3 separate regions of the Homo sapiens genome follow, and all the other regions are reported to be linked to region 2. The links are microRNA targets in miRTarBase. Many come from high-throughput screens and were not tested one by one. Region 2 holds a microRNA gene; each other region holds the end of a gene's coding sequence.

Region 1 (3,157 bases), not on the chromosome of region 2:
CACTGCACCCAGCCTCATTTTGTTTTTATATTAAAATGGAAGCCAATTTCATTATTTCAAAACTCCTTTGAATAGAGCCTTGTGTATAGAGTAGAATGTTAGTGGTAGTTGCCATTATGCAGGAGTCCCTTAGGCTTATCATTCTTTTAAGCCCAAGGAACCCCTAGATCTTTTATGAGTGGGTTTCAGCTCTCATATAGTACTTATAAAGGAACAGCTCCTCTTCCTATTTCCTTCTCCTACTTGAGCCTTCAGCCTATCCTTTGGCTGACACGTATAAGATTTTGGTTCCACCATTTCTGTTTTCCCTGTAAGTTAGAGATTCCTCTGTCACTGACTGATGAGTAGGTAACTACACAAACAATAGTTTGGCTTATAGACTCAGAATATTTGATTGCCAGAGTTAAAATGCCAGCCTTATGACATGGCTAAAGTGCTGTCCCAAGGCCACAGTGACATCTATCAGTCCGTGCATGTGTTTGCTTTGGAAGTAGATAGCCTTCATTCACCCCTGTAGTGCATTCTCCATCCTCCACTCTTAATACTTTTTACTATGAATTATTTTTTCTATAATTCAACTGTAACCTATTCTAGATTTGCTTTCAATCTTTTACAGTTACTAAACCAAGGAGATTTAACTGAAAGACGGACATGAGCGTGGGTGCTGACTCCTGGAAGAGCAACTCTATCTGATCTCAAAATGCGTATACTGGGAACAGGATGCCTTAGCCCACAACAGAACCAGAATGAATCTTTGAAGGCACAAGACTCTGCTTTTGCCACTCTTCCTCTTTCCTGGTATAGAAGATGGATGTAGGAGAGCTTCTTTTCTAACTACCATCTGATCAGACAAGGAATGAAGCAATGACTGTGGGCTGGGAAACTGTACCTACCTCTCTTCCCACTGCAAATTTCTGGGATAGACCAAAAGTGAATTTGATTATGTGTTGGCTGAAGTTCTTCATTCTGACTGTTGAGGGGAGGTTTTCCTTTGAAGAGTTTTCATCCCAGACTCAGCTGTCTTTTCACATGGATGAAATAATTCCTGCTACCAACAACAGAGCTTCACCAGGAAGTTGAGTTTTCAAGATGCCTTGTTGCTTTGAAGAAGGGAGTGATGTCAATTCTCTTGTTACATTCTCCCTTTAGCAACCTGAGTAAGAGACTCTCTGCCACTGGGCTGCAAAAAAATAAATTACTTGAATCTCCCCTTGGCCCAGGCTGAGGTACTATCTTGTCCTATACACTTCTACTTGGTCACTTTGCTTTCTTCGTTAATGGAACATACAGTAGCATGTTAAGAGGGATTTCATGTTTTTGTTTTTTTAAAGTTAAAAATTACATGATGCAGAGATTCAGGTTTTCCTTTAAATAAACAAAACAGCCCAGTCAGTTCTTTGGCTCTTGTTTTATACAAAATTTGTTTTCTTAGAGATTAAGAATTTAATCTTTCCCTTTAAAATAGTGTATTGATTTACCCTTAGGATTCCATACCAGTAAAACTGAACCGAGGAGTCTTAGGAAACAACAAGAACATCTTCATTTCTTAAGCCCAGGTGATAGTTACTCTGTCACCACCAAAAAAGACGCATCTGAGAAAATGGCAATAAAAACAGATACTTCTGAATTTTTCCACAAAGATAGTTTTTTTAAAAAAGCTTGAGAAAGGTGCTTTAGTTAGAGCAGGCACTCTTGCTATCAGTCATCCTGTCTCCACAGCTACTGAGAAAATATCCACTCATCATCATTATGATTTGAGATGGGGTCTTGCTCTGTCACCCAGGCTGGAGTGCAGTAGTGTAATCATAGCTCAATGTAACCTTGAACTCCTACGCTCAAGGCATCCTCCCACCTCAGCCTCCTGAATAGCTAGGACTATAGGCATGTACCACCAGTCCAGCTAACTTTTTGTGGTTTTTTTGGTAGAAATGAGGTCTGTGTTGCCCAGGCTGGTCTTGAACGCCTGGCTTCAAGCGATCCTCCTGCCTTGGCCCCTCAAAGTGCTGGGATTACAAGCATGAACCACTGCACCGAGCCAGAATATCCAATTATTATTGGTGAGAAGAAAATTATTCCAAAGTTCACCTACTAGTAGAAAATCTTGGTTGTCTGGGAAATTTTAAGTTTACTTAAAATGAACCTCATGCTCACATAAACACACAGGCACATTCTAAACAGATAACGGGAGAGAATTGTTTTAAATTCTTAATTTGTTAATGACATGCATAATCACATAGTACATAGACTGTGTTCATGGCAATTACTTGTATTCTTAGAATGCCAGTTTTTGCTTCATGCAGCCATTTATATTAGAGCAGTGGTTCTCAGCCAGGCACATTTTTGCCCCCTGGGGATATGCAATATCTGGAGACATTTTTGGTTGTCACAGCTGGGGAGAGGGGTACTACTGGCATCTAGCAGGTAGTGGCCAGGGATGCTACTAAACATTCTACAATGTACAGGACAGTTCCCTTCCCCAACCCTCAACAAAGAATTAGGTGGCCCAAAATATTAATAGCACTGAGGATAAGAAATCCTGTACTAGAAGTTGTAAGTTTTTCATCCCCCATGGGCTAGATCTGATATGCAGATGTATTTTATTTTGCCCATACAATATTTCTAAGTAATTTTTAAATTAGTTGATAGCATACAAATTTCTGGCTTGATGAAAATGTAGTTGATGTAGTAACTCTGAGCCTATATTCCAGCAGGATTTGATACTTTCCAGTGTCTACTATCTCCTACTGTCTACACCCACTCCATGGACGCATTTATGTTTCTGCACTAGCCCCTTATAGGCATTTGGGCCTGTGCTCTCTTTTCTGTACCTAATTCTCTAAGTGTGAGGCACAAAGCAGGAACCCTTAACTTTAGGCTACCATCCCTCCACCTGAGCCTCCCCACTTTGATTTCCTTGAACTATTCTCTGTTATCTGCTGCTCTTTTTTTTTCTCAGACAGAGTTTTGCTCTGCTGCCCAGGCTGGAGTGCTGTGGAGTGATCTCAGCTCATTACAACCTCTGCCTCTTGGGTTCAAGTGATTCTCCTGCCTCAGCTTCCCAAGTAGCTAGGATTACAGGCACGTGTCATCACGCCCAGCTAATTTTTGTATTTTTAGTAGAGGTGGAGTTTTGCCGTGTTGGCTGGACTGGTCTCAA
Region 2 (3,157 bases):
CTACTTTTGACACGGAACGCTGCTCTTCCTTCCCTTGCTGAGTTTCTCTCAAATATAATAGGAAGATTAGGGTTGCTTCTGCTCCCTCCCTGAGAGATCTGTTGAAATATCCAGTATTTGGGTTTTGGTTTGGGGTCCAAATATTTAGTTTTGAGAGATACACTTTACCTTAGAGTTAAGTGCACCTTTTGCCCTGGGTTATGCCAGATCTCACTTTAGACCTTGGCCCTTAACTTACTGGGTCTCTCTTTGTATTTTTTCCTTCTAGTGCATAGATTTACTTTTAACTCCTCAAGGGAGTACTGCCAAGGACTTTGCCTTTGCCTACTGGAAGCCCAGGCAGTGGAGAGAGGCCAAGGCATCTAGTGGCTACTGGACAACATTCCTTGCTTAATGCTGGTCAAAAAATGGTTATAAATTTACTCTGATTTCAAATACATCACAGAAGCTCATCATTTAAAGAAGCCCTAAGAGGAGTCTTTTTGTAAAGTTATGAGTTTTGCTAATAGATTTTGTTTTGAAAAAGCAACATAGAATGCCACCACTTCACTTTTTGATTTGTATTTGTACCTATTGGGTCTTCTTAAAGGAGAGTTCACCTCCATTTAGAAAGAATGAGAACCTTCTGCACAGAGACTTAAAGTGTCAAAATTTTATGCCTTAATTTGGCGTCTGATCAGAATTTTATCTGTACTTGCTCAATTACGTAAGTCATCTTATCTCTTTGGTTTTGGAAAAATGACAGTTGTATACTCTTAGGATGGGATAAGATTTGGGCAACGTTCCTACAAGGGAACCACGAGCATTTCCTTTCCAAAAACTGGTCCAGCCTAGGGCTGGATCAGGGGGTCCTGGGGGGCTCCATTCCAGCCCAGTGAAGGCAGAATATCTTGTCTTGGAAAGACTCTGGGAAGTTAGTTCATTTCAGTCTGTGCTGTGAGCTAGCCAGCAGTGGCTCTGAAATGAACTCAAACTCTAGGGTCACTTCCTCTTGGTCTAACTTCTGGGGATACATATTAAACAAGTCATCCCAGTGGCTAAGCACAGACCCTGGAGGCAGACCACCTGTGTGCAAATCCACGCTCTTCTGACTGCTGGCTGCACAGCACCTGTGAGGGGGACTCAGCTGCTCACCTGGGCAGGAACACATCCATCCTGGCTCTCCTCAGGCTGGTGGTCCAGAGGTGGATGGTGCTGGCTGTGAGGTGTGGCTCGATGTGGCTCAGGGGGGTGTCTTTGTCACGGGGCAGCACCAGGAACAGACTCACTGCACTTCCCAGGTAAGGAAGCTCCAGCACCCCCACCTGATGGCCTGCAGTGTCCTGGAACTGACCTGAGGGTACAGTGGATCAGAGGTCAGCTCTGTCCCAGGAGCCAGGAGAATGAACCAGTGTCGGACCCTGAGAGAGGCTGGCTCAGAGGACTGGAAACAATAAAACCGAGCATCCACCTCACCCTCAGGAGGCGGTTTCAGGCCAAAGACTGTTGGGCGATATGGTCATTTTATAAAAATCCTAGACCTAGAGTCTTTAAGATACCCTCACAGGACCAGAGTTAGAGGTTCTCTAGGACTGGGTATGGGGGGGGGGACGATGGCACATGCAGAACCACATAGAGTAGTGCCCCCTTATCCTTGGCAGATATGCTCCAAGAACCCCAGTAGAGGCCTGAACCTGTGGATGGTAACGAGCCCTGCATATACTATGTTTTCTCGATCTGATGACTGAGATGGCTACTAAGTGACCAACGGGCATACTGTAGACAGCCTGGGGATGCTGGACAAAGGGATGGTTCATATCTCAGGTGGAACAGAGAAGGACGTCAGGAAATTTCACCACACTATTCAGAAGGGCGTGCAGTTTAAAACTTGAGAATTATTTGTGAAATTTTCCATTTAATATTTTCTGATGCGGATAACTGAAACCTCAAAAAAGCAAAATCATGGATAAGGGTACAGGGTACTACTGTACCCGATCTTAAAGGAGCAGCCATTCAATCCCGGCCTATTGTGCCTGCCAGGGTGGCAGTTTGGTCCAAACTCTACTAGTGCAGAAGGAAATGTCAGGCATGAAACTGAGTTTCTCTTCCACATCTGTGTCCTCACTGTCCTGTCAGAGCACACTGTCCCACACTCCTCTCTAAAGTCTCCGGGCACCTTAGTCTTTCCTTCCGCCATGCATGCCCAGTCCAGCAGATGGACCCTGCGGAAACACATCCCGATCCCTTAGGAGCAGGGACCTGGCCTCCTCTCTCCTGCCCTCAGGCCCAGGCTTCCTCTCCCTTTAGACAAACCAGCAGGGGCAGAGCTCACCGTAGTTGACCTCGGTCGTTTGGTGCATCATGGGGACCTGAAGGACGAGGCCATAGGCACAGGTGAAAGGCAGGATCTGTGTGTCTGTGGAGGAGAATCTCTTTCGCCAAGTGCCTTGGAAGGACATGGTGCTCACAAGCACAAGCTGAGCAAATGCTGCACTGACTTGCTCCCACGGCCAGCCACCAGGGCCCTCACTGGGGCCCCCACCTGCAAGCAGGAAAGCAAGGTGGCCATGGGTTAAATGTGCATTGAAACTGAACCGAACCCAGTGTGTGTGCGGACAAGGAGTGCAGAGTTAAAATGCGAAAATGCAGGTCTTTTTGCTTAAGGTGGTCTCTCTCTTCATCTTACAATATCTTTTTAGTCTACTTAAGAATATTTAATTCCCTGTCTCAGCTCCTTGTGCTGTCAGGGACCCAAGGCACCAGGAGCTGCTCTCAACTTTTGGGGACTGTTGAGCGATATGGTCATTTTATAAAAATCCTAGACCTAGAGTCTTTAAGATAACCTCACAGGGCCAGAGTCAGAGGCTCTGTAGGGCTGGGTATGGGGGCGACAATGACAACCCCTGCTGGGGGATGAGGGTGTGGAGAGGGAAATGGAAAGTGAGAACTCAGAAGTCCTGACACCTGGGTGACCAGTCAGGGGAGGTGGGGGCAGTGAGTCATCTCTGGAGTTGGGTTGGTAGAGTATTTATTAAAATATGTTCATTGCAAATTGATATGTGTTTATAACCAGCTGTTGCTGAAGACCCTGCTTTTTATTCTTTTCTGAACAGGTTGGGATGCTGCTCCTGGTTCTGTTTGGGGCCATTTCCTAGGAATTATTAGACATTCCCTCCCC
Region 3 (3,157 bases), not on the chromosome of region 2:
TCAGTCCTGTGGCTGATCTAGACCCCCTACAGAGCCACACTTGTTCTCCCTTGGTGACAGCTTTTTCCCTTCTCAGGGTTACTTCGTGACAAACTGGGCTCCTATGATGTGGCATTCTACCTCGCTGGAGTCCCTCCCCTTATTGGAGGTGCTGTGCTTTGTTTTATCCCGTGGATCCATAGTAAGAAGCAAAGAGAGATCAGTAAAACCACTGGAAAAGAAAAGATGGAGAAAATGTTGGAAAACCAGAACTCTCTGCTGTCAAGTTCATCTGGAATGTTCAAGAAAGAATCTGACTCTATTATTTAATATCTTACATACCTCCACCAGACTGGACTTGCTTTTTGAATTTTAAGCAAGTTTCCTTTCCTTTTATACAAATTGCAAATTTCATATTTTTTTAATCACATCCTAGGAATAGCACAATAATTGGGAAATAGAACCCTTATCACTAGAAGAACCATTTTCTGCCACTAAATATCTCTGATGTTTCCATGAGTCTGAGGGCAGAGACTCTGGTATATGAAAACGTCTGAAAGTCACATATTGTGAAAATTTGAAGCTATCTCAGTAAAAAGCAGCTTTGGAAACTGTGAATGATCTTTAGCTTGTACAAATGTTTAAAAATACCTCAGGCTATACTGAAAGGGTTGCAGTTTGGTTAGGAGTGGAAATATTTTGTTTGTTAATGATGTCTTCAGTTCTGGTACCTCTGTTTTACTTTCTTATGCTCTTTGGAAACTTTTTGCAAAATTTAAGCCTGGGTTCTAGATAATACCAGATCTACCTAAACCTCAAGTCTATGTTAAAGTTGCTTTCCTGCTGTTAAATAAGCTATGATATTAAGATATTCTGACTTGCTCCAGTGTCAAGGGACCTTCTGGGAGCAGGTGCTAACATAGTGTTCAGAATCAATATGTGAGATGAAAAGGATCCCCTCCAGGAGGATCCTGAGCTGTTCAGAAATCATTTAAGTTTACAGCGTTGTTCCCTTTGCGTTTGCAGTGCGTTTTACTCAAGTAGCCAGAAACACCCCACGTTTCTGAATTTGTTTAAACTGTAACAATAAAGTAAAATAGAATGCATGAAAGATATTCTGGCGATTGTAACTTAGAATTTTTCTGACTTCTGGATTTGTTGGCACTAGAACCTGATATTTAAAGTCTTACTGAGCAGCTATCAAGTGGCAGTTACAGGCACAAATTGGTGGAGGCTGGAGGATGGGGAGGGGAGCAAAACCCTTTATATTTGTGAAGAAAATATCTGTAGCTGATAGAAATAATTGCTTAAATTGGTTTATGAAATTAATGAGTCTGAAAAGGTTAAAAGCACTTATAAAAAGAACCAAGTCCTACATTTCCAGAACTTTCTGGCAAAAATTTGCACTCATATTATTTATCCTATGAACATTCCCATTGTTTTTTTTTGCTATTTATATACAGATTATCATAAGAAAGCTCTCAGTTTGAGGACCCAAAATAAAACCAAAGTCATGCCATGACCCATACTCATTTACAAAAACAAGAACACTTTCCTCTATCCCTAAAATTATGCTTTAGTACTTGAGGCCTTTAAAAGTTAGTGCTTTTGATTGTGAAGACATTCAGCAACTTACTTTGTCATACATGCAGTTGCACCTTACCACTTCTAATAGTGTCATATTTCATATTCAGGGGACTTAGATAATTTGCCTGTGGATGGTTCTTTTGCAGGAAAAAAAATCTACATTTTGACCATACTACCCTTTCATGTCCTTATTATAAGCTTTTAGAAAATGATTTCATTCAGTCATGTCCAGTTATATAAAACGTTACTTTCTCATTTTTGAGAAGTTCAACAAAACATACTACTAAGACCAATCATCAAACCCACTATTATAAATGTTAATTTTGGCTGGGTAAGGTGGCTTGCGCCTATAATCCCAGCACTTTGGGAGGCTGAGGAGGGAAGATTGCTTGAGCCCAGGAGTTTGAGACCAGCCTGGGCAACATAGCAAGATCCTGTCTCTACTAAAAATAAAAAAAAAAATTAGGCCAAGCATAGTGGCTCATGCCTGTAATCCTAGCACTTTGGTAGTCCAAGGCAGGGGGATCACTTGAGCCCAGAAGTTCAAGACCAGCTTGGGTAACATAATGAGACCCTGTGTCTACAAAAAATTTAAAAATTAGCCAGGCATGATGGTGCCCACCTGTAGCCCCAGCTACTCAGAGGCTGAGGTAGTGGAAGGATTGCTTGAGCCTTGAGATGGAGGCTGCAGTGAGCTATGCCACTGTACTCTAGCCTGTTCAACTGAGCAGAACCCTGTCTGTAAAAGAAAATCAAAAACAAAAAATAAATGTTAAATTTTGTTTTAAGTTTTAGCACAGACTCCCCTCAAAACACCTTCTCCCCAATTTTACAGAAAGTAATTTAAAAATGAAAACTTTACTCTGTAAAGACCTCTACAGTGTTTTTCTTTTCAAAATTTGGCTGATTTTAGGAAAAAAGTGATCATCTGAAACTAAAAGAAATTGCTTGGTTAGTTTCCATATTAAAACAGCAGTGACAAGTATATATAACTTAGATCTCAGCATATGTGTTTGTATATTAAACTTCACATATGTAGTTTTCAGTTTAATGGAATGAATCAAACTGGATCTATAACACTGAAAAAGTTCTATTGTAATAGACTCATACGGAGAATACTCTGCTATAATAATATAAAATTAAGAAGAAAAAGTATAAACGTAAGATGCTAAATTCCATAAATGCATATTTAGTACTATGTTTTTTGTGGGAAAAGTTCTAAAAGTTTAAAATGCACAAAGAAAATGAAAAATACTAATATAAAAATTTGTGCTTTAATCTAGTCAAACTAAATCCTTTCTAATTTCTGAATGAAGTGTTACTGCTGCAATAAAGTGACCTGATAAGCCTAAATTTTTTGTGTTCAATCCAGACACTTTTCTGAGAGTCTGAAAAGAATACAGAGTCAGAACTCTGTTTTTATCTCCTCATCCTGTTTTTGATAAGACTCAGAAAATTCTCAAATTCGAAAGGTTCTGGCATTTGAGGCCAAAAAAAGCATGAAAGGGAGTAACATTCCTTTTTATAGATACTCTAGATTGGATACTATTGTAACAGATGGCCAAGAAACTTCCAGAAACATTTTGGTTAA

What was found. The annotated mature microRNA hsa-miR-5693 reads GCAGUGGCUCUGAAAUGAACUC and lies in region 2 at 949-970, shown strand. An mRNA with a match to its seed (bases 2 to 7 or 8) in the 3' UTR can be bound and repressed. Matches are read on the target gene's strand: a 7mer-m8 pairs with bases 2 to 8, a 7mer-A1 pairs with bases 2 to 7 and ends in A, and an 8mer does both.
Region 1: miRTarBase lists ZNF410 as a target of hsa-miR-5693. Seed matches in the 3' UTR shown: 7mer-m8 at 1,172-1,178.
Region 3: the mRNA of SLC16A10 is a reported target of hsa-miR-5693. Seed matches in the 3' UTR shown: 7mer-m8 at 2,266-2,272.

What each region holds. Positions count from the first base shown.
Region 1 is chr14:73,930,887-73,934,043 of GRCh38, forward strand. ZNF410 (zinc finger protein 410) reads left to right here. Exons shown (of 12, transcript NM_021188.3): 12 at 617-1,635. The coding sequence ends at 655. FAM161B (FAM161 centrosomal protein B) reads right to left here. Exons shown (of 9, transcript NM_152445.3): 9 at 1,390-3,157. Among named protein-coding and RNA genes, the nearest start is that of FAM161B, 18 kb to the right of the region's middle.
Region 2 is chr13:51,346,389-51,349,545 of GRCh38, reverse strand. It overlaps MIR5693 (microRNA 5693), which reads left to right and starts at 907; the gene lies at 907-979. SERPINE3 (serpin family E member 3) reads right to left here. Exons shown (of 10, transcript NM_001386375.1): 5 at 2,312-2,521; 6 at 1,135-1,333. It also overlaps a transcript of INTS6 not described here.
Region 3 is chr6:111,221,927-111,225,083 of GRCh38, forward strand. It overlaps SLC16A10 (solute carrier family 16 member 10), which reads left to right. Exons shown (of 6, transcript NM_018593.5): 6 at 77-3,157. The coding sequence ends at 309. Among named protein-coding and RNA genes, the nearest start is that of SLC60A2-DT, 36 kb to the right of the region's middle.